Regions from separate parts of the Homo sapiens genome. Here all the other regions are linked to region 2. Evidence: fine-mapped QTL for protein levels in blood plasma. A gene starts in region 2. Each other region holds a variant in brackets. All regions are shown on one strand. Distances are from middle to middle.

Region 1 (8,189 bases), 42 kb after region 2:
CATAATATTCTGAGCACTTTGGGAGCATAAGTCATGAGTAATTAAACTTTCTGATTGTCAGATAGCAAATGTCAATATGTTGGTGGAAAAAAAGAAAAATTTTAGTATGTATGTGGTCTTTTATAATGAAGTAGGTTTTATTTCTTCGGCCAATATTATGTACATTTATTAGTGATTGGAATGTTTTCTGGGGAAAGGGAAACTTTCTTGGATTTCTGCATGGGCAACTTTGACTTCAAGAAAACCACAGTCTCTGCATTTCAGAATACCCAACACACCACCTATTTGTTGAATACTACCTCAATTTTGTTCTTTGCTCTGGCAGAAAGTGACCACTAGGGAGCATTATAGTTGCATATATTTCTTTGCACACATTCAAGTGATTTATCATCTTAGGGCAAAAACTAGTTTTCAAAACAAAAATATCTTTATATCTACGTTTGCTTAGCCATTTTTTTACTTTTCCAAGAAAATTAAAATGTAAATTTCCTGCCCCTTATCTCCATTCTTCATACCACTCAGAAATCCTTCCACAAATAATTGTATTTGGAATATTTCCAAAGAAGAAACTGAACTTCTTGTTTCTCTTGTGACTCTAGCGATTTCTTCATTTATCACATTATCTCCAAGTCTCCAGTTATTTGCAAGCCACAGAAAATATGGAAGATAGAAAATTTTCAACCAGAATTTATTGGGCACCAGGCCCTGTACCGGAGTGTAAAGGTGCAGAAAAAGTCAGAGGTGGTATTACCCACACAACAGGTAGATTCAATTGCCTGGCAGGTGACAGCCCAATGACCATGACCAAGAAGGGTTTAACAAGGGGATATTATTATTTGCAATAAGGAAGGAGGACACCACAGATAGTTCCCCAAAGCAATGCCTCCTGGAACAATGGTGAAAACAGGGCTGTTATGAGGCTGGCTGGCTGAGTCATTGTATGTAGAGGTGGAGTCAAGGGAGCTTGAGTGCAGTCACTGATCATTCTTCTACATGTATTGCATGTATAGAAAATGGTGAATAAGCTCCTCCTTGGGCAGGGTTTTTAGTATGGTAATGAGTTCACCAAAATTCATCTCCAATTCAGGCATCTCTGGATCCAATTGGTTTTCGTTTTTCTGGGGCTGAGTTTCTTCCTGGAACTTTTTGAAACAATAAGAACTCAAGGTGCAACAGTTACATGTGGTTACTTTTCCACAGTTGTACCCCAAAAAACTTGGGGACCCTGGGTTACAGTGGTATGTATCCACCATTAGTCCATTCATACACTAAGGTAAAAAAGATAAATAACTTCTTACATTTTTAAGAGGTAATTAATACAATGGAAGAATTTCTATGGTGTTCTTTTATTATGTATATGGCAGCAAAGAAAGAATCTGGGCACAACTAGGTTGATTATATGACAGTTGGCCAAGCTTAGGGGAGAGAAAAGGAACTTTAGGAAGAGTATACAAAAACAAATTTAAAAGGACAAGCCATAAACTTTCATGATTGGAAGCCTATTTTCTACAAAACAATTAACCTGCATAAAAATGTACCTTCTAAATGGAGGAAGAAAAGGTAATCTTCAAACTCTCCTTTAAAAAAAAAGCAATGAAGAAAAATGAAGGATAACCTCAAACAGGTTGAGGGACAAGTAAGCAAAGGCAAAAGCTGAAATTGCCTTAAGGACAGTCACCCAAAGTTAAGAGCAACCTCTGCCTTCAAATAAAAGCAAATACACATCTTCTCTGGAAGAAAGTATCCTTAGCTTAGCTTAGATTCTGAGAATCCCCACAAATTAAAACCAACCATAGCTGAGCTTATACTCAAAGATCTCCAAACACATAAGATAAGCCACCATGAGTGAAAGTCATTAGAAGCAACAAATCAACAATTTTGAGACTTTACTACTATAGATATTAGAATTGTCAGACACAGAATATAAAATAGCTAGGTATAGACAGTTTAAATAAAGCTAAGATAAAAATTAGTCAAAGAGCAAAATAATGAGCCCACAGATTTGGAAAACAAGAAAGACAACTTTTAGGAATGAAATAACAGTTGTTTAAATATAGAACTACATACATGGATAAAAGAGCAAAATAGACATAACAGAAGTGAATTAAAAGATAGATCTCAAGAAGATATACTGAATGTAGCACAAGAAACTAACACGGAAAATATAGAAGAGAAGTCGAGAAATACCAAATATAGAATTAAAATACCTGATTTCTAATCAGAGTTCCAGAAAGACAGAACAGAAAAAGTTAAGAAAGTGCAGTATGTGAAGAGATAATGCCTTAGAACTTTCTAGGACTAGTTGGATTTATTATTTTATTTTATTTTACTTTTTTATTTTATTTTGAGACAGAGTCTCTCTCTGTTATCCAGGCTGAAGTGCAGTGGCACAATCACCGTACACTCTAGGCTCCACCTCCCAGGCTCAAGCAATCCTCCCACCTCTGCCTCCCAAGTAGCTGGGAGTTCCTGGGACTATAGGCACACATCTGTAGAGATCGTGTCCCATTATATTGCCCAGGCTGGTCTTGAACTCCTGGGCTTAAGTGATCCTCCCACCTCGGCCTCCCAAAGTGCTGGGATTAAAGGCATGAGCACCTGGCCTAATCAGATTTTAATTAAAGTCATGAATCTCTAGATAACACAAAGTACAATATGTTAAGCAAGACATATCATCTATATAATACTCTGTATCACACAGGGTACAGGCTGAAGTGCTGTAACAAAGAGATCCCAAGTTACAGTGGGATTAGGAAGATGAAATTTCATTCATTATCACAAAACAGTCCCACAGGTTGGTAGTTTAAGGGGCTAGAAGCTCTGCTCCTCAAGGAGACTCAGGAATAAAGTTCTGCCAGTCTTAAATTTAACTTTTGTTCTGGGTCCTAGACAGTTGCTCTGGTTGTCGCTAATTCCTAGCCATTAAGAACAAAGGAGAAAGAAGCCCGCAAGCTTTCTTTTAAGGATATGACACACATGTTGCACACATCACTTTGAGAAGAAAGTAGCCCAGCTTTTGACAACTCTGTGGGCTGGCATGCAAGATTTGAAAATGGAGGAGCCCCAGATACAATCTTTTACTATCCAGTAATTTTCTCACATGGGGATTTTTCAAAGTAAGCAAAGGCTAGGGTGGGGCTGGAAAGAAAAAGAAGTTTCCTGAATTCACAGTCTTACAGTTTGCAGTTCTCATGACTTT[G/A]CAGTATCAAAGCCTCACCATCTAGCAAAACCTGAGTCTAACAATCTTAAAGTTTCATAGTTTAGTTTTAAGGTGAAACAGGCTCTCAATGTTTGGTCCCAGGGAACTTCTAAAGGGTGAACCCTGAATCACTTCCAAAGCACTTAATGACATTGAGTCAAATCTGCAACCAAAAGCTCAATATAACTTCTGATAAAACCAATATCTCAGTCTTATGGCAGCAAGGAGGTTGGGGTTGGAATGAAAAGAAGTAAAACCACCTTGGACTCTTGGTTTTTTTAATGGCCCTAATAGTGAGATCAAATTCAAAACACCACCCCAAACCAGATCACATCCTGACTGGTACTGATTAGCACCCCTGTGAGAGCTACCAAAAAGGGTGTAGAACATTCCCTCAGCCAGTGGACGAGACCCAATTATATGCTATTTACATGAAAAATATTTTAAGTATAAATGGATATGCAGAATTTAAAAGTACAGAAAAACGTGAAAACACTTAAGAATAAGAATGTAGATGTAGTTACTTTAAAATAAGATAAAGTGTATTACAATGAAAGTTGTCATCAAAAAGACCACCCCATAATGTCAACATAGTGAATTCAACAAGAAAGATAACACTTCAAAATGTGTATGCCCTTATTATCAGAGTTTCAAGAACATGAATCAAAAATTGACAAAAACTGAGAAATAGACAAATTAACAATCAGAATTGGAGATTTTAACATACATCTCTACATATTTGATATAAGTATATTAAAAATCAATAAGGATAGGAAGGGTGTGGTGGCTCATGCCTGTAATCCCAGCACTTTGGGAGGCCAAAGCAGGTGGATCACAAGGTCAGGCGATCGAGACCATCCTAGCTAACATGATGAAACGCCGTCTCTACTAAAAATACAAAAAAAAATTAGCCAGGCGTGGTGGAAGGCGCCTGTAGTCCCAGCTACCTGGGAGGCTGAGGCAGGAAAACGGCGTGAACCTTGGAGGCAGAGCTTGCAGTGAGCCGAGATCGCGCCACTGCACTCCAGCCTGGGCGACAGAGCAAGACTCCATCTCAAAAAACAAAAAAGAAAAAAAAAATCAATGAGGATATAGAAGACTGGAATACTCTATCAACCGATTTAATCTAATTTAAATTTGCATAAGTCTACACTAAATAGCTGCAGAATACACATTCTCTCAAGTGCACATGTGAATATTAACCAGGATCTCCCATGTGGTAGATCATAACACAAGCATGAAAAATATTTTTATTTTATTTTATTTTATTATTATTATACTTTAAGTTTTAGGGTACATGTGCACAATGTGCAGGTTAGTTACATATTTATACATGTGCCATGCTGGGGTGCTGCACCCATTAACTCGTCATTTAGCATTAGGTATATCCCCTAATGCTATCCCTCCCCCCTCCCCCCACCCCACAACAGTCCCCAGAGTGTGATGTTCCTCTTCCTGTGTCCATGTGTTCTCTTTGTTCAATTTCCACCTATGAGTGAGAACATGCGGTGTTTGGTTTTTTGTCCTTGCGATAGTTTACTGAGAATGATGATTTCCAATTTCATCCATGTCCCTACAAAGGACATGAACTCATCATTTTTTATGGCTGCATAGTATTCCATGGTGTATATGTACCACATTTTCTTAATCCAGTCTATCATTGTTGGACATTTAGCTTGGTTCCAAGTCTTTGCTATTGTGAATAGTGCTGCAATAAACATAAGTATGCATGTGTCTTTATAGCAGCATGATTTATAGTCCTTTGGGTATATACCCAGTAATGGGATGGCTGGGTCAAATGGTATTTCTAGTTCTAGATCCCTGAAGAATCGCCACACTGACTTCCACAATGGTTGAATTAGTTTACAGTCCCACCAACAGTGTAAAAGTGATCCTATTTCTCCACATCCTCTCCAGCACCTGTTGTTTCCTGACTTTTTCATGATTGCCATTCTAACTGGTGTGAGATGGTATCTCATTGTGGTTTTGATTTGCATTTCTCTGATGGCCAGTGATGATGAGCATTTTTTCATGTGTCTTTTGGCTGCATAAATGTCCTCTTTTGAGAAGTGTCTGCTCATATCCTTCACCCACTTTTTGATGGGGTTGTTTTTTTCTTGTAAATTTGTTTGAGTTCATTGTAGACTCTGGATATTAGCCCTTTGTCAGATGAGTAGGTTGCGAAAAGTTTCTCCCATTTTGTAGGTTGCCAGTTCACTCTGATGGTAGTTTCTTTTGCTGTGCAGAAGCTCTTTAGTTTAATTAGATCCCATTTGTCAATTTTGGCTTTTGTTGCCATTGCTTTTGGTGTTTTAGACATGAAGTCCTTGCCCATGCCTATGTCCTGAATGGTAATGCCTAGGTTTTCTTCTAGGGTTTTTGTGGTTTTAGCTCTAACGTTTAAGTCTTTAATCCATCTTGAATTGATTTTTGTATAAGGTGTAAGGAAGGGATCCAGTTTCAGCTTTCTACATATGGCTAGCCAGTTTTCCCAGCACCATTTATTAAATAGGGAATCCTTTCCCCACTGCTTGTTTTTCTCAGGTTTGTCAAAGATCAGATAGTTGTAGATATGTGGCGTTATTCCTGAGGGCTCTGTTCTGTTCCATTCATCTATATCTCTTTTTTTGGTACCAGTACCATGCTGTTTTGGTTACTGTAGCCGTGTACTATAGTTTGAAGTCAGGTAGCGTGATGCCTCCAGCTTTGTTCTTTTGGCTTAAGATTGACTTGGCGATGCAGGCTCTTTTTTGGTTCCATATGAACTATAAAGTAGTTTTTTCCAATTCTGTGAAGAAAGTCATTGGTAGTTTGATGGGGATGGTATTGAATCTGTAAATTACCTTGGGCAGTATGGCCATTTTTACGATATTGATTCTTCCTACCCATGAGTATGGAATGTTCTTCCATTTCTTTCTATCCTCCTTTATTTCATTGAGCAGTGGTTTGTAGTTCTCCTTGAAGAGGTCCTTCACATCCCTTGTAAGGTGGATTCCTAGGTATTTTATTCTCTTTGAAGCAATTGTGAATGGGAGTTCACTCATGATTTGGCTCTCTGTTTGTCTGTTGTTGGTGTATAAGAATGCTTGTGATTTTTGTACATTGAATTTGTATCCTGAGACTTTGCTGAAGTTGCTTATCAGCTTAAGGAGATTTTGGGCTGAGACGATGGGGTTTTCTAGATATACAATCATGTCATCTGCAAACAGGGACAATTTGACTTCCTCTTTTCCTAATTGAATACCCTTTATTTCCTTCTGCTGCCTAATTGCCCTGGCCAGAACTTCCAACACTATGTTGAATAGGAGTGGTGAGAGAGGGCATCCCTGTCTTGTGCCAGTTTTCAAAGGGAATGCTTCCAGTTTTTGCCCATTCAGTATGATATTGGCTATGGGTTTGTCATAGATAGCTCTTATTATTTTGAGATACATCCCATCAATACCTAATTTATTGAGAGTTTTTAGCATGAAGGTTGTTGAATTTTGTCAAAGGCCTTTTCTGCATCTATTGAGATAACCATGTGGTTTTTGTCTTTGGTTCTGTTTATATGATGGATTACATTTATTGATTTGCATATATTGAAACAGCCTTGCATCCCAGGGATGAAGCCCACTTGATCATGGTGGATAAGCTTTTTGATGTGCTGCTGGATTTGGTTTGCCAGTATTTTATTGAGGATTTTTGCATCAATGTTCATCAAGGATATTGGTCTAAAATTCTCTTTTTTGGTTGTGTCTCTGACTGGCTTTGGTATCAGGATGATGCTGGCCTCATAAAATGAGTTAGAGAGGATTCCCTCTTTTTCTATTGATTGGAATAGTTTCAGAAGGAATGGTACCAGTTCCTCCTCGTACCTCTGGTAGAATTCGGCTGTGAATCCGTCTGGTGCTGGACTCTTTTTGGTTGGTAAGCTATTGATTATTGCCACAATTTCAGATCCTGTTATTGGTGTATTCAGAGATTCAACTTCTTCCTGGTTTAGTCTTGGGAGAGTGTATGTGTCGAGGAATTTATCCATTTCTTCTAGATTTTCTAGTTTATTTGCATAGAGGTGTTTGTAGTATTCTCTGATGATAGTTTGTATTTCTGTGGGATCGGTGGTGATATCCCCTTTATCATTTTTCATTGCATCTATTTGATTCTTCTCTCTTTTCTTCTTTATTAGTCTTGCTAGCAGTCTATCAATTTTGTTGATCCTTTCAAAAAAACCAGCTCCTGGATTCATTAATTTTTTGAAGGGTTTTTTGTGTCTCTATTTCCTTCAGTTCTGCTCTGATTTTAGTTATTTCTTGCCTTCTGCTAGATTTTGAATGTGTTTTCTCTTGCTTTTCTAGTTCTTTTCATTGTGATGTTAGGGTGTCAATTTTAGATCTTTCCTGCTTTCTCTTGTGGGCATTTAGTGTTATAAATTTCCCTCTACGCGCTGCTTTGAATGTGTCCCAGAGATTCTGGTATGTTGTGTCTTTGTTCTCGTTGGTTTCAAAGAACATCTTTATTTCTGCCTTCATTTCGTTATGTACCCGGTAGTCATTCAGGAGCAGGTTGTTCAGTTTCCATGTAGTTGAGCTGTTTTGAGTGAGTTTCTTGATCCTGAGTTCTAGTTTGATTGCACTGTGGTCTGAGATATAGTTTGTTATAATTTCTGTTCTTTTACATTTGCTGAGGAGAGCTTTACTTCCAAGTATGTGGTCAATTTTGGAATAGGTGTGACGCAGTGCTGAAAAAATGTATATTCTGTTGATTTGGGGTGGAGAGTTCTGTTGATGTCTATTAGGTCCACTTGGTGCAGAGCTAAGTTCAATTCCTGGGTATCCTTGTGAACTTTCTGTCCCGTTGATCTGTCTAATGTTGACAGTGGGGTGTTAAAGTCTTGCATTATTATTGTGTGGGAGTCAAAGTCTCTTTGTAGGTCACTCAGGAATTGCTTTATGAATCTGGGTGCTCCAGTATTGGGTGCATATATATTTAGGATAGTTAGCTCTTCTTGTTG
Region 2 (8,156 bases):
TACCTTGTGTTCTATCAACTCCCTGGGGCCCCAGAAAAGGGACATATGAATGAAATTCAGAAAAGAGCAACAAAATTATTAAAAAGCTGTGGGGTTGATTTATGAGGCACATTATGAAAGCTAAGTACATGTGGCTTGGCTAAACAATGACTAAATGAAGACAGGATGAATGCCTTTGAGTTTACGGAGAATACAATCACTGAGAAAAAAAGAGGCAGGGAGTTGTCTTGAAGGTGATAACATCACTATCACCACTTTTGTTCCTTTTTTTTAGTTGTATGTTGTTTTTAAACTGATACATCATAATTCTACGTACTTAAGGGGTACAGTGTGATTTTTCAAGACACGTATAGATTACATCATGATCAAATCAGGGTAATAGCATAGCCATCACCTCAAATGCTCTTGATTTCTCTGTGGTAGGAACATTAAAAATCCTGTCTTCTCGCTATTCTGAAGTATTTGAAACTTGTTTTTATTATACTTTAAGTTCTAGGGTACATGTGCACAACGTGCACGTTTGTTACATATGTATACATGTGCCAGGTTGGTGTGCTGCACCCATTAACTGGTCACTTACATTAGGTATATCTCCTAATGCTAACCTTCCCTCCTCCCCCAACCCCATGACAGGCCCCAGTGTGTGATGTTCCCCATCCTGTGTCCAAATGTTCTCATTGTTCAATTCTCACCTATGAGTGAGAACATGCGGTGTTTGGTTTTCTGTCCTTGCAATAGTTTGCCCAGAATGATGGTTTCTAGCTTCATCCATGTCCCTACAAAGGACATGAACTCATCCTTTTTTATGGCTGCATAGTATTCCATGGTGTATATGTGCCACATTTTCTTAATCCAGTCTATCATTGATGGACATTTGGGTGGGTTCCAAGTCTTTGCTATTGTGAATAGTGCCACAGTAAACATACGTGTGCATGTGTCTTTATAGCAACATGATTTATAATCCTTTGAGTATATACCCAGTAATGGGATGGCTGGGTCAAATGGTATTTCTAGTTCTAGATCCTTTAGGAATTTTCACACTATCTTCCACAATGGTTGAACTAGTTTACGGTCACCAACAGTGTAAAAGCGTTCCTATTTCTCCACATCCTTTCTAGCACCTGTTTTTTCCTGACTTTTTAATGATTGCCATTCTAACTGGCATGAGATGGTATCTCATTGTGGTTTTGATTTTCATTTCTCTGATGGCCAGTGATGATGAGCATTTTTAGTATTTGAAATATTATTGTTGACTATAGTCACCCTATGGTGCAATTTAACAGGATAATTTATTCCTCCTAACTGTAGCTTTGTACCCACTGACTGACTCCTCATGTCCTCCCCTCCTGACTTCCCCCAGCTTCTGGTAACCACTATTCTACTCTCTACTTCTATGAGGTTGTTTCATTTTTTTAATATGGGGGCAGGGGCTGTGCTATTTTAACTACCTGCTACAGAACTTAGCACCAATTTTTTAAATTTTTCATAATAATAAGAAAGATAACACAATAGCACTGAAAACAACATAGTACCTTTAGAAAATGTAGGCAATTCTCTAAGTGTGTTCTGGATAAGAGTACTGACTGAGAAGTAATAAGAATATAAATCAATTAACAGGCTATGTGAAAAAGAAAAGGCAAAAATGAGCCCCTGATGTCACATCTGTGATGAGGGGATGAAAGGAGAGGACAAAATTAAAGGGGGAAAAGTAAATTGGCCAAAGTCCTTGCAGTTCATAACCCCATGGTTAGCTGCCAAGCCCAGCAATTCAAAAAAGAATCTCTAATAAGGTATCCCCTGACTTCTCCCAGAGACCTCAACTGCCACATGGATTATTTCAAACAGGAGAAGATCACCAGCCTGTATTCCATCCTTTTAGTGCCAAGCAAGACCCAGAGAAGTTTCATGTCACAGGCTGATGGGTGGTGGCTGATAGGACCAATTTAGCTGCTGCTGAAGAGCAAACAGCCTCCAGTTTGTTTCTTATCTCATCTTATGCAGAGCAATGAAAAGTGGCAAAACTTAAAGTGGAGTTTGCAGTATCTCAAAAGGTCCAAGAACTGACCACTTGCCTGACCCTGAGGTGGATGTTGGGGATGTTACTGTAAATACGACATGCTCTGTGTCCTCAAGGACTCCCAGGCAGGACAGGGAGGCAGTCACCAAAACAGACAAGTACAGTCACATCTTACATAACAATATTTTGGTCACCTACGGACGGCATGTACAATGGTGGTCCCATAAGACTGTAATGGAGCTGAAAAATTCCTATAGCCTAGTGACATAGTAGCTGTCATGACATTGTAGCACACTCATGTGTCTATGGTAATGCTAGTGTAAGCAAACTTACTGCACTTTCAGGCATATAAAAGTATAGCACATATAATTATGTATAGTCCATGTTTGATGATGATAATAAGTGACTATGTCACTGGTTTATGTATTTACTATACTTTTCATCATTATTTTAGAGCATACTTCTACTCATAAAAAAAAGTTAACTATAAAACAGTCTCAGGCAGATCCTTCAGAAAGTATTTCAGAAGAAGACATTGTTATCTGAGGAGATGACAGCTCCATGTGTGTTATTACCCCTGACAACCTTCCAGTGGGACAGGATGTGGAGTGGAAGACAGTGACACTGATGATCCTGACCTTGTGTAGACCTAGGCTAATATGTATGTTTGTGTGTTATTTTTCACAAAAAAAAAAAAAATAAAAATATTAAAACTAGAAAAAAGCTTATAGAGGCCAGGCACAGTGGCTCATGCCTGTAATCCCAGCACTTTGGGAGGCCGAGGCAGGTGGATCACGAGGTGAAGAGATTGAGACCACCCTGGCCAATATGGTGAAACACTGTCTCTACTAAAAATACAAAAAATTAGCTGGGCGTGGTTGTGTGTGCCTATAGTCCCAGCTACTTGGGAGGCTGAGGCAGGAGAATTGCTTGAACCAGGGAGGCAGAGGTTGCAGTGAGCCAAGATTGCACCACTGTACTCCAGCCTGGTGACAGAGAGGGACTCCATCTCAAAAAAAAAAAAAAAAAAAAAAAGCCTGTAGAATAAGGATATAAAGAAAATATTTTTGTACATCTGTACAATGTATCTGTGTTTTAAGGTAGGTGTTATTACAAAAGGGTCGAAAAGTTAAAAAAATTAAAAGTTTATACAGTAAAAAAGTTACAGTAAGCTAAAGTTAATTTATCATTGAAAAAGGAAATTTTTGAATAAATTTAGCTTAGCCTAAGTGTAGTGTTTATAAAGGCTATAGTAGTGTGCAGTTATGTCCAAGGCCTTAACATTCACCCACCACTGACTCACTGACACCCACTGCAAGCTCCATTCACGGTAAGTGCCCTACACAGGTGGACAATTTTTTATCTTTTATACCATATTTTTACTGCACCTTTTCTAAGTTTAGATATGTTTAAATCACAAATACTTACCATTGTATTACAGTTGCCTACAGTATTCAGTGCAGTATATTCTGTACTGTTTGTACGTTTGTAGCCTAGGAGTAATAGACTATATCATACAGCCTAGGTGTGTAGTAGGCTACACCATCCGCATCTGTGTAACTACACTCTATGATGTTCACACAACAATGAAATCACCCAAGGACACATTTCTCCAACAATATCCCCATCATTAAATGGTGTGACTATAATGATTATCCAGTGAGTTATGAGATAAAAGAGATAAGCTCGGCATCCCAGGCCTGCACTGCGGATAACATCTATCCCGGCATGAAGGATTTCAGAGACTATGTCCTGGAGGCAGTGAAGCATGACATGACATGATTATCATCAGATGGTATCACTTTCAATTTACAATTGTTTTAAGATGAAGATCCTCATCCTAGAGCATTTATAGCAGATGATGGAGTGGATGTGTATTGTTTTGCTCACCAAGCTTGCTTTCTTTTTAAGGAACAGTCCTTTCTTCCCAAGAGAACTGCTCTTTCTCTCCATTCCAACCATGAGGTTCTAACTAATCCCCATACTTCACCTTCCTTGTCCCCATTGATTAGTCCAGGGTGAACCCATCCAATTTAATTCCTGGAACTTTTAAAGTTGGGCCTAAGAGACAGGGACATTCCTTCTGTGGTGATAAGGTCATAAAGTAAGAAGATTGGAAGGATCATTTTTCCCTTATGTGGAAGTAATCCTGTTGGCCCTCCTCTCTCTAGATCCCAATTGCCTCTGAGGACTCCCTGTACCATTCCTGTGCTGTCACTATGTGAAACATCACAGCATCCTTCCAGTAAAGTCCTCTTTTCGCAAAAACTAGTTCAAGTTTGGTTTCCATCTCTTGCAATCAAAACTGAATAGCAATTTTACACTTGCAGTGACTTCTTGACATGTTAATCCTTGTCTTAAAGTTACATTTTCCCTGTCACCACTCCCACCCCACTCTTTCCAAGAAGAGCTAGCCCAATCTCCATGTTGCCAATTTCTCCTTGTTCTATCTGAGTCTATTCATGCTTGGAACACTTGGCCGATGCTCTTTGCCTCCCCATTAGCAGTGCTTCTAGTTGCTCCATTTCAAAGTACATTAAAATGCTGTCTACCAAGAGCCACCACCAGAGAATCCTACTGAGTGGGTCAAGAGTGGGGCTCAGGAATCTGTATTTTTAACAAAATACATGCTGGTTGATTCGATCTGCAGCCAGATGGAGGCATCATTAGGCCAAATGGCTTACAAAACCTATCAGTTTTTTTGTTTTTTGTTTTATCTTTTTCTTAAACTTTTATTTCAAGTTCAGGGGTAAATGTGCAGGTTTGTTTACACAGGTAAATGTGTGTCATGGACATTTGTTGTGCAGATTATTTCATCGCCCAGGTATTAAGCCTGGTACCCATTAGTTATTTTTCCCGATCTTCTCCCTGCTCCCACCCTCCACCCTCCAAAGCCTATCAATTTGAAGAGTAGGTAAATGTCCTACTCAAGAGTGCAAATGAACTGTTTCATCTCTAGTTAAGTTTGAGTACTACTCAGTCTCATTTACCTCAAAGAAAGCAGAACTATTAGAGGCTTGGAAGTGTGTCATAGTGGTTTCAGGCTGCCGAGAGAATTATCTAGAAGGGGCTTGAGGTGACCTCATCATCTGCGGGTGTTGCAGAGGCAGACCTGGCCCCTTCCGCAAGCTGCCTTTGATTTCCTTCATGCTGGGGACAGATGAGGTAGAGGCCATTTGTTTCTTTTTAAACTCTAGAATTACATCACAGGCCTGTATAATTTTCCTTAAAAAGTGTTTTTTGTTTTTTTCCAAAGCAACTATCCTCAAAAGAGCTGGGCATAGTTCTCCTAGGGGCAGCACCAGTGTTGAAGTGTGGGGGGAAACTGTTCTAAATCCTTCAAACAATGTCACCTTTGGAGCAGTAAAACTGCTCCCTTTTTCCCATGAGAGATGACAAGCATGCCCCAGCAATCATTTCTTGAAAGCGGATGCCCGGTGAGAGAAGGATTTGATTTGCTGAAGGGTCAGCCAAGTTAAGCCAGTTTCTTCCTCATTTCTTCCCTGGCTGGAGGTTTTGATGGTGGTGATGGTGGTTGAACTGAACCCACTTAGAAAACTGTCAAAGGTTTCTGGACTCTCAGGTGTGCCGTCTCACATTTGGTCTGCTACAGCAGGTGCTTCAAGGCTTTCTTCTGCCAAGATTTCTTTGTTTTATTTTATGATGTTTTCTTTATGTGTGTGTGTGTGTGTGTGTGTGTGTGTGTGTGTGTGTGTTTTACTTTTATTTCTAACAAACCTGTGGACCTTGGGGTTTAAGACTGAGTGAAGCTAGAAGGATTAGAGTCAAAAGAATTTTGCCATTTGGCCAATAGCATTCCCCACCTCCTGACATATCGATTTTTTTTCTAGATTCCCTTCCCCCTGCCACTCCCCTCCCCCCAACACACACACACTTTTCTCTTTCTCCTCTTTCTCTCCTTTCCTCCCTTGCTTCTCTCCCCTCCCTCTCAACACATTCAATGAGTGCCCTAAACGGTGACAAACTTGCATGTGCTTCCCTCATGACTAAACCCCTGGGCCTTCTGCCAATCCCCTGCAGATGGCCCCAAACTGCAGGCATCCCGTAAGGGGACCCCACGCTTGCAGCCCTGGTTGGAACGGTCAGGGTGGAGGAGGATGGTGGGGAGTGGTGGTGTCTTCGTCCTGGGAGAAGGCGAAGCAACTTCCAGGAGGAAACGGGCGTTTCCTTCCCACGCGCTCGAGCGAGCCCTGGGTCCTGGCCTCGGAACTCCACCCAGCCCCTCCCCACCCTCTGGGAAAAGCCAGTCGCCACACACAGGCACACGCAGGCCCCGGCGCCGCGCCCTAAGGAGAGCAGCACCCACAGCCAATTGCCATGGCAACCCCGGGGTTCGTTCCACTTCCCCACCCAGCCGATCTCCCCCCTCCTCCCTGCACTGCAGCCAACCGGCTTGTGCGCGTCCCAGGAGCGCGCTATAAAACCTGTGCTGGGCGTGATCGGCAAGCACCGGACCAGGGGGAAGGCGAGCAGTGCCAATCTACAGCGAAGAAAGTCTCGTTTGGTAAAAGCGAGAGGGGAAAGCCTGAGCATGCAGAGTGTGCAGAGCACGAGCTTTTGTCTCCGAAAGCAGTGCCTTTGCCTGACCTTCCTGCTTCTCCATCTCCTGGGACAGGTAAGTGGCACACCCTTAAGATGCCCCCAAGTTACTTTGCCCGCCTTGGTGGCCCCCATTTGGTCACCGGGCTCACTGCGTCTTCTGTCCCAGCTGAGTGGTTTCTCCTTGTCTCGCCTGCCTTCAGGTCGCTGCGACTCAGCGCTGCCCTCCCCAGTGCCCGGGCCGGTGCCCTGCGACGCCGCCGACCTGCGCCCCCGGGGTGCGCGCGGTGCTGGACGGCTGCTCATGCTGTCTGGTGTGTGCCCGCCAGCGTGGCGAGAGCTGCTCAGATCTGGAGCCATGCGACGAGAGCAGTGGCCTCTACTGTGATCGCAGCGCGGACCCCAGCAACCAGACTGGCATCTGCACGGGTAATCCTGCTCCCTCTGCTGTTTGACCTCTTCTCCTGCAGCTAAGTGAAGCTGCTTCCTCCCTTCTCTTTTGTATTCCCCTTCCCAGAGGGCGATAAGCAAATAATAATAATGCAATAAATGACATGTATAGAGCACTTACTGTGTGTCAGGCATGGTTTGGGGAGCACTTGGGGCTTTGGGGAGCGCCAGAGCCAGAAAGGAAACCTGCCCTGGGGGTGAAAGGCATTCCTCACTTGGCTTCCTAGACAAGAATCTAAGCAAAGGGGGAGCCACGCAGAGTTAAGGGCCAGTGAAGTCATTTCCTTCGGACACTTCTAGGGGGCCACTTGGGGCTGATGGAAGCTCGGGTTTACTCACACGCTCACAGTTTCCCAAACTGCAGTTGGGGAAAACCCAGCAGGTTTGTTTTCACACCTGTAATTGTCCCATTTGAACCAAAGCAGCTGCTAGTCTCCTGGGATAACTATGTAACCCTTTTCTGGCTGCAAGTAAAATAAAATGCAGGCAACTAGCCAATCCAGGCTTCTAAAACGTAATCAGTCGGGGATCAATTTTTCACATGATACAACATTGTAGTTGAAGATTGTCCCTTCCTTTCTGGACAGGAGGGCTTTTACTTTTTTCTCTAAGCTACTGATGATTTTATTATGCTTGAGTGTCAAGGAATCTTAATGCCCTTCCCAATTTGATCAGCTAACCTGTTGGAAAACATAAAGTACACTTTTTCTCTTTTTAAGTCTAAGCTGCTGGAGTAGGAAACTCTAAGGAGGTTCTCGCAAAATGACTGAACATTGGGAAAAATGGCCAGGGGACCTTGGGGACATCACTTCACAGTTGCACACCTCTTTCCTCATCCATAAAATGAGTGGCAAGACTAGATGATCTTGAAGGTTTCTTCTTGCTCTGAGAGGCCTCCATGAGGACATCACTCTACAGTAGATACATGAGAAACCAGATCGCCTGAACTAGAAAAGGACTTGGGTTTTGGAACATGCCCTCCAAATCTTACATAGCTTCTTCACTGTATTGTGTTCTTGTTTTTCCTCTTCCTCTTTGCTTTTCACTTTGCTTCCCCAATATTCTAGCGGTAGAGGGAGATAACTGTGTGTTCGATGGGGTCATCTACCGCAGTGGAGAGAAATTTCAG
Region 3 (8,189 bases), 52 kb before region 2:
TATTAACTTGCCACAGAGAATTTTCTTCCTTTCATTTATTTATGCTTTCTTCCAAACTGTTTTCTTTGTCTACCTTTTGTATCCTTCCTGCCTGCATTCTCTTTTCTCTTCTTTTTTTTCTTTTTATTCTTTTCTTCTTTCTCACTTTTTTCCTCTCTCCCTCTTTTCCTTTCTCCAGCCTCCATTATCTTCCTTCCTTCCTTCCTTTTTTCCTTCCTTCCTTCCTTCCCTCCTTCCTTCCTTCTGTCCTCTATTTCTTTCTGGTAGTATATTTGCATTATTGCCAAGTATTTCTTTAAAAATATTTCTCCTTTTTAATATGTGCAGATGGCACTCTGTCCAGAACTTCTATTGAATGTAAATGATTTTTAAGTCAGCTCTCTTTTCTTACTTAAGACCTGTTTGTTTTCATTTCTTAGCTGCACCCAAGGAGTAGGATGCCTACCCTTCTGTCTAGTTTTCTGTAGCTTCAGGGTCTGGATAGAGGTGGATTTCGTCTGCTGGGCCCATGTTCAGCCTTTGTGGAAGAGCCCAAGTGCTTCTTTTTCTTCATAGATTTCTGCCAAACGTCCAGGAACCCAAGATCACCTAATCTGTGCACTCCTTCTGGGTTCACTTCCTTTCTTGAGCCTAGGGTTTTAGAATACAGTGAGCCAAGGCTGGTTTTTCGGCCTCTTCTAAGATTCCAAGTTCATGTGATAGTTCATATAAAATTCTCTTCTTATTTTTTTTCTCTGTTTACTTTCCTCCTTAGTTTATTTCTTTCCAAATTACTGTGAGTATGTGGAAGGAGAAGGGGAGGGGCAGTTGTTAATACAAAATCTCAAGATGTTGTCCACTAATCTTTCACCATACTGTTTCTGGCAATTGGACATTGCCAGAAGTTAATAATTGAGCCTCATTAAAATCTTCTATTTCTTTCTTTACCACTACATTTGGCAAATTAGAGCATGTGTGTATCTAAATGAATACTTCCTGTTGTTTTTTAAATTTTTTTAAATGTAGGGAGAAAAAAGTCCTGTGATTCTGGTTTCTTTCCAATATTTTAACACTATTATTTTCTTATATGCTTTTTTTATACATTGGAAAAGTTAAACATAATTTATTTGATAATATGTCTCATATGATAATATCATTGATACCAGAATCTGTGTTGTAATACTTCATAATCCTGGGATAATTTAGAAGAGAGTCAAATATTACATAGCTAGTATAATTTTACTGTCATACAGGTCACAGGCCTCAAGCTCGACTCAGAGGAATTTCTACAAAGATTCCATGTATCTTACTGATACACTATATATCACTGACTCTGTTCTCCATTTTCCCTCTTCTTTTCCATGATTCTTAACAATAGGGCAGAGGAATAGAACATAACACCATCTTATCTAGGAACATTGTCTCTTCCTTGGAGATGCTTATCCTAACACCATAAAGATGATAGTATATTTGGGACATCCATAGTGCACTGAATTTTCTACATGAGAAGGGTTCTTCCTTATCATAGAGTTGTTAGGGGAAAAAAAGCCATAATATTGTTAAGAAGATAACTAGAAAAAAAGAGAACAATTATTCAAAAATCATTGAAACACGAACTAGGAGAAAGTATTAGACAGTTGTAGAAGAGAGGAATATGAGCTTCAAATACTGCTTCAATATTAAACCCCTTTATATACACTAACACCAGACCTCTGAGTCACTAGGCCTCTTTTCACATTATCCTTCTTTTAGTGTCTTCTCAAAACAATCCCTACAGCCTTGCTATAAATATTTGAATAACTTCCAAGTAATCACCTGGATTCTTCTTAAAAGACCCCAGGATAGAAAACTCACTGGTTTGTAGGTCAGCCCAGTGCATCACCAAAAAGTTCATACCTCATACTCATAGGAAGCGATTGGCCTATTTTTAAATTTTAAAAGTAGAATAAAATTATATCTGATCCTTATAACTATGATAGAGATTTTCTGCTATATAAGCAAAGGCTAAGAGGAAACACTGGCCAATGAAAGGAGCAGTAGAACCATATGTGAAATGATGTTTTTTAGAATACTACCTAGAATCAATAATGTTGATTAAGAAAAGGGAAGAATAGGCTGCGCACAGTGGCTCACGCCTGTAATCCCAGCACTTTGGGAGGCCAAGGCAGGCGGATCACTTGAGGTCAGAAGTTCGAGCCCAGCATGGCTAATAAGGTGAAACCCATTCTCTACCAAAAAATACAAAAATTTGTCTGGTGTAGTGGCATGCATCTGTAGTCCCAGCTACTGGGGAGGCTGAAGTGGGAGAACGGCTGGAATCTGGGAGGCAGAGGTTGCAGTGAGCCGAGATTATACCACTGCACTCCAGCCTGGGTGATAGAGTGAGGCCCTGTCTCAAATTTAAAAATAAAAAAAGAAACGGGAAGAATGCTGTGCTTTATATTAAATCAAAACCCTCTCTCTCTCTCTCTCTCTCTCTCTGTATTTTCAGTGCCTAAAACTCTGCCTGGCATATAACGCTTAATACACATTTTGTGGAATATATGAATGTGAGATCTTTCTATTAATACTACATCAAACCATTGAGACCTCACACAACAGGTATATTTCCTTTTCTACACAACAGGTACCATGGTCTCTAGGGACTTCCCTTGTCTAGGATGAACATTTCTGATTCCTTCAACAGTTCCTAAAAGTTCTTATATTGACTGCCCTTCACTTCACGCCAGCAGTAGGACTTCGAAGTTGCCCAGCATAGAGCCTAATATTGCCTCTCAACAATATTTTGGGTGAGATATGTCAAGGTAAGTGCTGGAGTGAGAGGAGTAAGGGGAGTGAGCTCACTTGCCTGAAAAAAAGAAAAGCCAAGTTTTTTTTTATTTACCTGATTTGCTTTCTGAGCACCTCCTTATAGCCTTTTAGAGATCATTCTTCCCAATGCATCTCAACATTCTTTTTCCACCCCTGAGGCAGTCACGTAAGGATCTTTTACCTCCTCTCCTTCGCTGCCACAGAACTGGATGTTCTTTCCAGATTCTCACATGATCGTGGATTCTCTCAATCCTCACTTCTTTTTATTTTTATTTATTTATTTATTTATTTATTTATTTATTTATTTATTTATTTATTTTTGAGACGGCGTCTCACTCTGTCTCCCGGGCTGGAGTGCAGTGGCACGATCTCCACTCACCGCAACTTCTGCCTCCCGGGTTCAAGTGATTCTCCTGACTCAGACTCCCAAGTAGTTGGGATCACAGGCACCCGCCACCATGCCTGTCTAATTTTTGTATTTTTAGTAGAGATGGGGCTTTGCCATGTTGGCCTGGCTGGTATTGAACTCCTGACCTCAGGTGATCCACCCGCCTCAGCCTCCCAAAGTGCCGGGATTACAGAAGTGAGCTACTGCACCTGGCCCTCACTTCTTTATGCTGATCTCTACCTTGAGTATTCTGTGATGCAAAAATACATGAGAAAATGGGGCCATCACTTCAAATGCAGTTTTTGTTCGATCATCATTTTTCACATCTTGTTGACATTTGGAGAAGAGTACAATATGAAGCTTCTTTTGTATTTCCACCATGAAATTTAGCAAGTTTGAATCAATCCTTTGTGAGGCCCATCCTTTTCCTCCCCCATTAGAATGAAATATAGCTTTAAGCTTGAGTTATGTATCTTAGAATATGGTTTAACAAAAGCTAAAACCTAAAAAAAAAAAAGGGCATGGCATCCTTGGTATTTGTGGGTGAACTCTGTGGTGACTGCTTTAATTAATTTATGTAATTG[G/A]AATTTCACCAAGACATAAATTTACTCATATCTATTTTTAAAGACAGGAATATTGATCTTGGACCAGCAATAAATTCCTGTAATATTTGTCCTCAGTAAAAAGCCAAGACAATTCTAGGCCATTTCTTTTTGTCTTGAAAACGTTATGCCAAAATCATCATTTTGTTGGCTGCATACATCCTGATTTATATTCGATGAGAGTTATAAAAGGCTTTTATAGTGGAGATGGCCGAGTGACATTTTCCTATAAATCACGATCATTTTTACTGCTACAAAGTTCTAGGACTGAACTTCAAATACAACCGTGCTGTAAACTCTGTGGATGGAACCACATACTTGCTGAATGAGAAACATGTTTCCCTTTCACCATGAGTGACTGCATATTCCAGTCAGTCTCTGGCAGATGAGAGCATCACTAAAACCCAGGGAACCATGCTCAGCTTTGATGAAGCAGCTTGTGAAACGCAGGTCACCCAGAACACCTTTGAATACAGCTATGCTTTCAGCCTCATGAATAATTCAGGTCCATATAGATACTATATGTTGAGCTGAAATAACCTAGCCATTAAAGGTAACAAGAATGAGGGGAAGCTAATTTTGGCAAACATCAGTATTGTGCATCAGAAATATAACACTATAGATCAGAATCCTATTTCATTCAATATGAATCCTTATGAGAATGTCTTCTGATCACAGGGGTGTCATCTTTGCACATAACTCTCCTCATCCTCAAGTGACCATACCTGTTAGATTCAAAGGTAACTTGCTTTTGTAAGAAAGTAGCGTAGAGCAAAGATGAGGGTACCAGGGATTAGAAGCTCTGAATTTTCTTTCAACCCATCTTAGTGAAAAAAAACAACAACCTGGATTTAGAAGGCAGAAGAATGGCTTATGTGATTTTAGAAAAGGGATATTAAACCTCTTCATCCCTAGGTTATTTATCCATAGTCACAGATGTTCTATTAATAATATAGGTGAAAGAAATGTCACCGTATCCCCTACTCCCACTAAAGTAAATTAAACCTGGTTTAAGTATCCACTTACTAAGAGAAGCAAAAGCTTTAGGGCCAATTCTGGATGTTTTCTACCCTACTCTTTGTGGGTAACAGAACCCAGACTTACATAGTCAAGGAAGACTGTGACAGTGGCATCTCATCTTCAATAACAAAGTGGTAGACATTGTGATTGTTTGTTTCCTAAGACTGTTATCCACTCAAATATGCACAGCTTTTTCTAGCAGCCTCATGTTCTTCATGTCACCTTCAGATATAGAGATCTTTACCTAGGCTCCCAAAGGAGGAGCTTGGTGCCAAGTCTCTCCTGGTACCAGCGTAAGTCCCCTACACCAAAGAGCTTTCTACCTTCATAGTTTTATTATGAGCAGGAATTATCCAATTCATTACACTTTGTTCACATTTGCAGTCTGGTAAAATTATCTATCTGGTTTAGACTGGGCTCTGTTTCAATCCACTGAAACCACAGCCTGCCTCCTCATTTTGTCTCTGACAATGGAGCCTCATCATACCGAGAGCCTTGTACATGCACAAGCCTAGGCTTGCATGCATGAGTGTACACACACACACACACACACACATGCATGCACACACACAGAGTTCACTGACCCTTGGAGATAAGGAGAATTCAGACCTGCTGGATTTTCTTGGAAGAAGTGGGGATAGTGGAGATGTTTTCATTCTATGTCCTGGTGAGTCCACAGCAAGAGTGGGGGTTGTGAGGAGCAATTACAACACCTCATTTATTACATGAAATACAAAAAAAAAAAAAAAAAAACTCATCTACTTTCTTGGTATTACCAAGTAAACACTCATTGATTCTAAAGCTAGACTTCCAGTTTGTTTCTCTCTCCTGAGCTCCAAATCTGTTTAGTCAACCCTCCAAGTCCCTCTTGGCAACATGTTAAAAAACAAATTCACCGGCCAGTCGTGGTGACTCACACCTGTAATCCCAGCACTTTGGGAGGCCAAGGCAGGCAGATCACGAGGTCAAGAGATCGAGACCATCCTAGCCAACATGGTGAAACCCTGTCTCTACTAAAAAAATACAAAAATTAGCCAGGCGTGGTGGCACGTGCCTGTAGTCCCAGCTACTCAGGAGGCTGAGGCCAGAGAATCGCTTGAACCCAGGAGGTGGAGCTTGCAGTGAGCTGAGATTGCGTCACTGCACTCCAGCCTGGTGACAGAGTGAGACTCTGCCTCAAAAATAAATTAATTAAAATTTAAAAAATAAAAATAAAAACCAAACTCATCATTGCCATTCCACTCACCTACCTACCATTTCTCCTATAGTATGTATATCTGTAAATGACATCACCATCATCCAGCCGGAAGCATAGGTCTTATCCTTGAGTCCTCCCCCTTTCCCCTTTCTCAGTCACATATAACCAACCACTTAAAGTTCTATTGATTTTCCAAACTTAAAATCACTAAAATCTGTTCACTCATCTTCTACCATTCTGGGTCAGTCCCCATCATTTTTATCCTGGGTTGCTACTATAGCTTCTTAATTGCTCTTCCTACTCCCAATTTTGTTCTGGGCTTGCTCACAGCCAAAACACGTTACAGCCAGAGTGTTCTCTGTAAAATGCATGTCATTGCCATGTGCTAATAGTAATCTCTCAATAATGCTTTTTGTCTGATTTTAATACATCTCCCCTACTTTCTATTGGTTACCTTTTTCCTGCCATGTCCTTTTCCATTGTATTCTTTAGAATAAACTAAGATGCTGCAGCAAATATCAAATATACCAAAATAGAATCATGGTTCAGTACAGTAGAAGCTTTTCCCCGACAGTCCTGAGCAGGTATCAGTTCTCTGGAGATGCTGCTCCTCCAAGCTGTTATTCAGGGACTCCAGATGCTTCCATCCTGTTGTTCTACTATCCTCTAAGGTCTATCTGCACCTGTATGCAGCCAGATCCAGGAGAAAGGGCATGGTGAAAGGCATTGGGGAATCAATGCACCAGGCCTGGAAATGGCACCTATCACTTCCATTCCTACTACACACCACCATACCCAAGAAGAAGGGGGCATGAATTTTGTGACTGACCAATACATATGTTGTTGAAGTGAACAGAAAGATAAAAGGGCATAATCATCACTCCTTCAGTTTGTTAGGAAAGGTTTCCTAGGAGTGGTAGATTCAGGTGTCTGAGTGGCAGAAGAGTGTTAGTATAATTAAGAATATGAGCTTTTGAGACAGACAGACTTAGGTTTAAATCTTGCTTCTAGTGCTTACTAGTTGGCTCAGTTAGGTAATTTATTTCAAATCATCCAAGTAGTGATTTGAAATAAATCATACCAAAAACCATGAACTTTTTTTAAGGATTAAGGGAAATTAAATATTTGGAACAATTGGCTCGATCTCTGTCAAAAGGAAGTCTTGCTAAATGGAAGTAATTACCATTAGTTATTGGCTGGGTGAGATGAAAGCTGGAAAGAGAGGTTAGAAAGAAACAGTTTGGAATATGGTGAATTTTGCCTTGTGACATTTGGTAAATTATTTAACATATTCTAGACCTTTGTTTTTTTCATCTACAAAATGAGCAAAATTCCTTATACCTGATAGATTAATATGAGACACAAATGAAATATGCATATAAATGTTGGCATCATGTTCAATCCTTATTCATGATAATTATGATTATGGAAGTAAACTTGGTATATCAGGAAGGAGAAATTATTTACATGGTAAAAACATTTTTCCCCTTTCAGAGAGAATAACTGACTGTTTCAAACTCTCCACTTTCTCTCTCTTTAAACTCTTATTAAGATTTTGAATTTTCAAACCACAAATCTCAAGTATGCAAAAAATGCAAGTATTTTTCCTACTTTCTGTCCAAAACTCCTATGGTACCTAGAGCAGAAATTGAATTTTGCAATTTCAAGGGAAATTCATTCACTCAAAGTTTTTCTCAATCAATTCCAAGTAAACTCAGCCAATTTATGGTTCAGCACCTCCCTGACTTTGTGGGGCTCCTAAGAATTAGGAGACCCTTGAAGTAACTTAGCATCCAGGGTAAGACACTTTATTTTAAGTCATCAGCTATCCTGCTCACTTCCACTAAGATTTACACAACTCTGTTTCATTAGGGGTTGTCCTTAGACCTCCTTGGCTGTCCTTTGTCCTCCTTGCTGTCACTGCTGCCTAGTCCCTGTCCACACGGCATGTGCATTCACCCCAGCTGCTGTCCTGACTACGACATCCCTTGGCACAACTGGATTTTCCACCATGGTATTCTGTATCTACAGAGATTCCACAGTATTCTGTATCTACAGAGAACTCAACAGGACTGTCCCAGTCTCTCTGCCCTGCCCACTGTGCATCCACATCTCCTCTACTCCTTCTGTGTCATAATCACTTGGAAAAATATCTACAAGTCTGTTGATTCCTCAGGTTCAAAGAGAAAAA

Which allele goes with the higher level. Positions count from the first base shown, and alleles are read on the strand shown. Strength reflects both the effect of a copy and how common the allele is.
With allele G in place of A in region 1, the plasma level of the protein whose gene starts at base 6,483 in region 2 is higher (weak association).
For the plasma level of the protein whose gene starts at base 6,483 in region 2, allele G in region 3 goes with a higher level than allele A (weak association).

The links. PIP is the chance, under the fine-mapping model, that this variant and not a neighbour inherited with it causes the effect. Protein levels are from antibody-based Olink assays in UK Biobank. Linkage for the fine-mapping came from a reference panel and not from the study's own genotypes, which makes the PIPs less certain.
Region 1: its variant is fine-mapped to the plasma level of the CCN3 protein (UK Biobank, PIP above 0.99).
Region 3: its variant is fine-mapped to the plasma level of the CCN3 protein (UK Biobank, PIP 0.94).

Annotation. Positions count from the first base shown.
Region 1 is chr8:119,451,740-119,459,928 of GRCh38, forward strand. No RefSeq gene overlaps it. Among named protein-coding and RNA genes, the nearest start is that of CCN3, 39 kb to the left of the region's middle. The variant G/A (reference allele first, on the strand shown) is at 3,200.
Region 2 is chr8:119,409,964-119,418,119 of GRCh38, forward strand. It overlaps CCN3 (cellular communication network factor 3), which reads left to right and starts at 6,483. Exons shown (of 5, transcript NM_002514.4): 1 at 6,483-6,653; 2 at 6,781-7,006; 3 at 8,095-8,156. The coding sequence starts at 6,570. LOC124902009 (a long non-coding RNA gene) reads right to left here and starts at 6,346. Exons shown (of 2, transcript XR_007061077.1): 1 at 5,008-6,346.
Region 3 is chr8:119,358,278-119,366,466 of GRCh38, forward strand. The region is part of intron 1 of LOC124902009 (a long non-coding RNA gene); the gene reads right to left. Among named protein-coding and RNA genes, the nearest start is that of MIR548AZ, 37 kb to the left of the region's middle. The variant G/A (reference allele first, on the strand shown) is at 3,763.